2 linked regions of the Homo sapiens genome follow. The protein of the gene in region 2 purifies or fractionates together with the protein of the main gene of each other region. This does not show direct contact. Each region holds a gene or a part of one and is shown on either strand. Other genes may lie near its edges.

What was found. The genes of interacting proteins can lie anywhere in the genome.
Region 1: the proteins of METTL16 (region 2) and TCEA1 fractionate together in Homo sapiens (co-fractionation; one large-scale study listed by BioGRID). This does not show direct contact.

Annotation. Positions count from the first base shown.
Region 1 is NC_000008.11:53,987,918-53,991,567, reverse strand, and holds part of TCEA1 (transcription elongation factor A protein 1), read left to right. Parts: intron 1-3,308; coding exon 3,309-3,454; intron 3,455-3,650. Other genes in the region: LYPLA1-TCEA1 readthrough, read left to right, coding at 3,309-3,454.
Region 2 is NC_000017.11:2,466,817-2,470,466, reverse strand, and holds part of METTL16 (RNA N(6)-adenosine-methyltransferase METTL16), read left to right. Parts: intron 1-2,590; coding exon 2,591-2,706; intron 2,707-3,227; exon of another isoform or gene 3,228-3,413; intron 3,414-3,650. UniProt on the Homo sapiens protein: RNA N6-methyltransferase that methylates adenosine residues at the N(6) position of a subset of RNAs and is involved in S-adenosyl-L-methionine homeostasis by regulating expression of MAT2A transcripts.

The DNA.
Region 1 (3,650 bases), on a different chromosome or scaffold from region 2:
CATGTGCCACCATGCCTGGCTAATTTTGTATTTTTAGTGGAGACGGGGTTTCTCCATTTTGATCAGGCTGGTCTTGAACTCCTGACCTCAGGTGATCCGCCCGCCTTGGCCTCCCAAAGTGCTAGGATTACAGGCCTGAGCCACCGCGCCCAGCCTTGTTTTTATTTTTTTTTTTGAGACGGAGTCTTGCTCTGTTGCCCAGGCTGGAATGCAGTGGCACAATCTTGCCTCACTGCAACCTCTGTCCCCCAGGTTCAAGCGATTCTCCTGTCTCAGCCTCCCGAGTAGCTGGGATTAGAGGTGCACGTCAACACACCCAGCTAATTTTTGTACTTTTAGTAAAGATGGGGTTTCATCATGTTGACCAGGCTGGTCTCGAACTCCTGACCTCAAGTGATCCACCCACCTTGGCCTCTCAAAGTACTGGGATTACTGTCGTGAGCCACTGCGCCTGGCCTCTCGTTGTCTTTTATCAGTTTTACGTGCTTGACGTGTAGGTATAGAGCCTGTCTGCAAAAGAAAATTACTGTATGTGAAGTCTGATAAAGTAACTGATTGGTATCTATCTACACCCCATCCCCGCCCCAACACACACAGAAATACAGGAGGATTGAGAAATGAATTTTGAGGAGTCATGTAAAGAAAGATAGAAGGTTAAATCTAAGTTGCTTGTAGCTAAGCAGGATTTTATATTTTGGGTGCAAGAATTTAAGAAGAAAGTAATGTGTTTAAATGCTTAGAAAGGAAGGATCAGAATGTAGGAAGTGGGACCAGCAGTAGTGAAACTAGTGAGGAAAAGTTTCCCTCAGCCCATATGGGCAATTTCCCTTGGTTCCTGTGGAGCATTTGGCTACAGACACAGAAGCAAAAGCATTTAATCAAAGTGTTTAAGAACTGGGTTTTTGGCTGGGTGTGGTGGCTCACACCTGTAATGTCAGCACTTTTGGGAGGTCAAGGTAGGGGGATCACTTGAGCCCAGGAGTTTGAGACTAGCCTGAGCAACATAGGGAGGCCCTGTCTCTACAAGTAATAAAAAGCATTAGACAGGTGTGATGGCACATGCCTGTGGTCCCAGCTACTTGGGAGGCTGAGGCAGGAGAACCGTCTGAGTTTGGGGGTCATGGCTGCAGTAAGCCATGGTTGTTTCACTGCACTCCAGTCTGGGTGACAGCGTAAGACTGTCTCAAAAGAAAAAAAAAAAAAAAAAGAAAAGAAATGAGTTTTGGGGCCTGGCACGGTGGCTCAAGCACTTTAGGACGCCGAGGCGGAATTATCACTTGAGGTCAGGAGTTTGAGACCAGCCTGGACAACATAGACCCTTTCTCTACCAAAAAAAAAAGGTTTGTTTGTTGGATTATTTTTTTTTTTTGGAGACAGAGTCTTGCTCTTTTACCCAGGATGGAGTGCAGTGGCGTAGTCAAGGCTTTCTGCAGCCTCAACCTTTCAGTCTCAAGCGAGCCCCCTACTTCAGCCCCCAAGTAGCTAGGACCACAGGTGCATACCACCATGTTTGGCAAATTTTTAAAACTCTTTTTGTAGACCCTGGGTCTCACTATTTTGTCCGGGCTGTTCTTGAACTCCTGGGATTACAGGCATGAGCCAGCTTGCCCGGCCAAAAAATATTTTTAAAATTAACTGGGCATGGTGGCATGCACCTGTAGTCCTAGTTACTCAGGAGGCTGAGGCAGGAGGATTGCTTGAGCCCAGGAGTTCAAAGCTGCATGAGCTGTGATGGCACCACTGCACAACTCTTGCTCTCTTCACCACTGTGAAAAGTCTTGCTCAGTTGCTCAGGCTGGAGTCTTAAAAAAAAAAATAATAAATGGGTTTTTAAGCATTAGTTTGCTCATTCATTTATCACTGAGAGGCATTATGCTACATAATGAAAATACAAAGAAAAGTAAATCCTAGTTTTTGCTCTTGAGAAACTCAGTCTGATAGAGAAGAAAATGTATGAAAAGTTATCATATACAAACCTGTGTGAATCAATATTTTGGGAATACAGGGGGAAATCAGTGAAGGCTTCAAAAAGGAACTGACTAAATTTAAAAGGTACTAATGTCCGTCTGACCCACAGGCACCTGTTTGTGAAGTTTAACAGTGGTTATGTTTTGGAGAGAAGGCAAGGGAGTATGTTCTTGTAGCATTGCAGCAAACCACATCTATGGATGGTGGATGATTTAATCAGTCTTTGAAAAGGGTTATGGCAGCTGTTTTCAATGTGATAAAGCTTAATTGTAATCATGAAGATTATTTTGGAAAGAACCCATTTTAGTGATAATCCAACGTAAGAAGCTACTCAGAAGCAATTGAAAGGATTAGGTTGACTGGAAAATTATAAAACTGCCTAAATGTTCATATCGAGGTGATGTTTCTGGGGAGAAACACACCATTTTGTAGCCTCATGACTCATCAGTACACATGGTATTTGTCTCACTGGGGAACTCACTGTCTAAGTGGAACAAGGTTTTCCTTTTTCTTTTTGTTCTTTTTTTTTTTTGAGGTGGAGTCTCGCTGTGTCACCCAGGCTGGAGTGCAGTGGTGCAGTCTTGGCTCACTGAAACCTCTGCCTCTGGGTTCAAGCGATTTTCCTGCCTCAGCCTCCCAAGTAGCTGGGATTACAGGCGTGTGCCACCACGCCCAGCTAATTTTTGTATTTTTAATAGAGACGGGGTTTCACCATTTTGCCCAGGCTGGATTTGAACTCTACTGGCCTCAAGTGATCTGCCTCTCTTGGCCTCCCAAAGTGCTGGGATTACAGCTGTGAGCCACCATGCCCAGTGAAACAGAGTTTTTCAAGCATTCTCTCTCTCTATCTCTAGTTTTGGTTGAAAGCTGTCATTCTCTGGTGTGAACCTGGGAGGTGGAGCTTGCAGTGAGCCGAGATTGCACCATTGCCCTCCAGCCTGGGTGACAGAGCAAGACTCCGTCTCAAAAAAGAAAGCTGTCATTCTCTGGTCCCATCCCTTCATCCCTCTCCTTATACCAAGATCATTGCTTTTCATTTATTGTACTGAGCTATAATGGGTATTTTCTCTATTAAAAATATTGCTTAATATTTAAAATGAGAATCAAAGATAAAATGTTTAGTTCAAAAAAAAGGCATACTTGTCACTTTACTAAATTGTAAAATTTTTAACTTCTTTTTAATCTGTATGCAGGCAATTTTTTTTCCATCACATAAAGGTCACTGAGATACTGTGTCATTTATTTAGACCCCAAATTTTGTTTTTACAGCATGATAGTAGTATTGTTACTTTGAAAGGATTGTTCTTGATTTCTTTTTGGGGTGTTTGTGCGTATTTCAGTACTTCCAGCGGCAATGTAAGCAACAGAAAGGATGAGACAAATGCTCGAGATACTTATGTTTCATCCTTTCCTCGGGCACCAAGCACTTCTGATTCTGTGCGGTTGAAGTGTAGGGAGATGCTTGCTGCAGCTCTTCGAACAGGGGGTAAGTCCAGTGCATGTTATTTCTCAGTCCTTTGGTCACCACCCACAACCACTGCCATCTCCAACTCCATATTGCTGTTTGATGAGTGTTACCCTGTGGATAGCCCACCCACTGCTGCTTAGCTTGGGGAGAAGTTGTTGCTGATACGGGTCTGTTAAGGGGGAGAGGAGGAGGAATACTGGGGCATTTGCTTATT
Region 2 (3,650 bases):
TGTGCATAGTGGCAAATAATTGGAGTTGCCCCAGTGTGCATGTTCCCAGCTGAGGCTCAACAAGGCAATGCTCTGCCTTCTTACTCCAGCTTCCGGACTGTGAACCAAGCGTCCTTTTATTGGTCTATTTAATACCACGTTTTGGGGTTTTTTTTTTCTTTTTCATTTTTGTGCTTTCTCTTGGTGATTTTGCTGTTTAAAATAGTCCCTAAACATAGTGCTGAAAGGCTGTCTTGTGTTCCTCAGTGCAAAAAGGCTGTGATGTGCCTTACAGAGAAAACACGTGTGTTAGACAAGCTTCCTTCAGACGCGAGCTGTAGTGCTGTTGGCCATGAGTTCAGTGTTAGTGAATCAGCGACATATATTCGATAAAGTGTCTTTGAACAGGAACACCATAAAATAAGGTTGTGTGTCTATCAGTTGATGAAAATACGAAGAGAGACTTGTAGGAACCTAACCCTGTATTTCCCCTGGGAATCAGTGGTTCAGTATTCACTCATTGACTATTTGTGGCTACTTTGTAGAATATAACTAGCGCAGATAATGAGAATTGACTATATATGAAGTAACTTAGTCACCAAGATTTTAAAAGGAAGGAAACCCTACTGTTGATTAAACTATACCATCTTTTTAATTTCAGTACATAGGCCGGGTGCGGTGGCTCACACCTGTAATCCCAGCTCTTTGGGAGGCCGAAGCAGATTGTCTGAGGTGAGGAGTTTGAGACCAGCCTGACCAACATGGTGCAACTCCATCTCTACTAAAAATACAAAAATTAGCCAGGCGTGGTGATGGGCATCTGTAATCCCAGCTACTTGGGAGGCTGAGGCAGGAGAATCGCTTGAACCCAGGAGGCAGAGGTTGCAGTTGAGTGGAGATCTCGCCGCTGCACTCTATCCTGTTCTACAGAATGAGACTGTGTCTCAAAAACAAATAATAATTTCAGTACATAGAACTGTGCTAGAAATAGTCAAATCCCCTTGTGATTAGTTACTTTTTATTTTTGTGACCATTCTGTGTATAAAGCAGTGTTAATTTTTTTTCCGTTAAAGAGATTTTATGTCTCTTTATGAAAGAAATAAGACTTTTCTTCATAGTATTGAACATATCTTTGTAAGGGGAGACATTAATATTATTAGTGCATTTGTTTTATTTCTCCATTGTTGTGTAACAAATTATTCCAAAATCTAGGAGCCTATTTATTTATTTATTTTTATTTTTTATTTTTTGAGACAGAGTCTTGCTGTGTCGCCCAGGCTGGAGTGCAATGGCACAATCTGCTGCTCACTGCAACCTCTGTCTCCCAGGTTCAAGTGATTCTCCTGCCTCAGCCTCCTGAGTAGCTGGGATTGTAGGTGCCCACCACCACACCCGTCTAAGTTTTGTAATTTTTTAGTAGGGACAGGGTTTCACCATGTTGGCCAGGCAGGTCTCGAACTCCTGACCTCAAGTGATCCACCTGCCTCGGCCTCCCGAAGTGTTGGAATTATAGGCATGAGCCACCATGCCTGGCGCTAGGAGCCTTTTAGAAAAAAAAAACACACACACACAACAACAAAAAAAAAACATTTTTTTATTAGAGACAGGGTCTCACTCTGTCATCCATGCCGGTGTGCCGTGGCGTGATCATGGCTCGCTGCAGCCTCAGCCTCCTGGGCTCAAGCAGTCTCTCACTTTAGCCTCCCAAGTAGCTGGAATTACAGGCTCGTACCACCATGCTCAGATAATTTTCTTATTTTTAAAATTTTTGTAGAGATAGGTTCTTGCTGTATTGCCCAGGTTAATCTGGAACTCTTGGTCTCAAGCAGTTCTCCCGTCTTGGCCTCCCAAAGCACTGGGATTACAGGCATGAACCATCACACTTGGCCCTAGCAACTTTAAACAATAAACATTTATCTCCTAGTTCCTATGGGTCATAAATTTTGGCATGGCTTAGTTGAGTGGTTCTAGCTGAGACCCTTTGATGCATTTGCGGTCAAGTTGTTGGCTAGAGCTACAGTCATCTGAAGGATGTATGGGTGGTAGAGATTTGCTTCCAAGATGGCTTACTCATGGCTCACTCACACGACTCTTGGAAGGAAACCCTAGTTCATAGCCATGTGGATCTCTCCATGAAGCTATTTGAGTGTCCTTAAAATGCAGCCTATACTTAAGGGGAGGGAAATTAAACTCCATCTCCTGAAGGGAGTACTGTCGAAGAGTTTGAGGACATACAGTCACACCTTACTTAACAGCAGGGATATATTCTGAGAAATGCATTGTTAGGTGATTCATCGTAGTGTGTGCTCACACACACCTGAATGGTGTAGCCTACTACACACCTGGGCCTATGTGTAATAGCCTGTGGCTCCTAGGCTATAACCTGAACAGTATGTCACTGTATTGAATACTGAAGGCCATTTTAGCACAATGGTATTTGTCTATCTAAGCATATCAAACATAGAAAAGGTACAGTAAAAATGTGGTGTTATAATCTTACGGGACCACCATCATATATGCAGTTGACCAAAGAATCATTACGCAGTGCGCGGTTATACTTTAGAACCACTGCAACATTAATATTAGTTCACAGTCCTGTTTTTTCTCCTAGTGGTGAAAGTGCCACAGAAGACACTCCTGATGGATGCTCTTAAAGAAGAATCTGAGATAATCTATGACTTTTGCATGTGCAACCCTCCCTTTTTTGCCAATCAATTGGAAGCCAAGGTAAAATGTCTTCTGCTTTAAAATAATTGAATATAGGCTGGGCGCGGTGGCTCACGCCTGTAATCCCTGCACTTTGGGAGGCCAAGGCGGGTGAATCATGAAGTCAGGAGTTTGAGACCAGCCTGGCCAACATGGTGAAACTCCGTCTCTACTAAAGATACAAAAAAATTAGCCAGGCGTCATGGCCCATGCCTGTAATCCCAGCTACTTGGGAGGTTGAGGCAGGAGAATCGCTAGAACCCGGGAGGCAGAGGTTGCAGTGGGCCAAGATTGCGCCATTGCACTCCAGCCTGGGCTACAGGGCAAGACTCTATCTCAAAAAGAAAAAAAAATCTAAATTTGCCTTATTTGCACAGATAAGAGCAAAGAAAACTTTAAAAAATTAACTTACTATTTTTTAAATTAATATATTTGAGATGAGGTCTCGCTGTGTTGCTCAAGCTGGTCTTGAACATCCGGACTCAAGCAGTCCCCCGCCCGTCAGCTCCCCTAGTAGCTGAGGCCATAGGCGTGTGCTGCAGTGCCTCGCTTTTGAAAGCTGTATACCAGTTAGGGGGCTTTTGGTTTGAAGTACTTTCGGCTCTCTGTATCCACAGGTCCTACACCTGTGGGTTCCGCATCGTGGATTCAGCCAGCCATGCATTGAAAGCATTGGGAAGCTTGCACGGTGACTCACACTTGTAATCCCAGTACTTTGGGAGGCTGAGGTGGGTGGATAGCTTGAGCTCGGAGTTCAAAACCAGCCTGGGCAACGTGGTGAAGCCCTGTCTCTACAAAAACTACAAAAACAATTAACCAGGCACTATGGCGTGTGCCTGTAGACCCAGCTACTTGGGAGGCTGAGGTGGGAGGAAGGCTTGAGCCCAGGAGGTGCAGGTTGCATTGAGCCAGGATCGTGTTACTGCACTCCAGCCTCGGTAACCCTGTCTCAAAAAAAAAATATT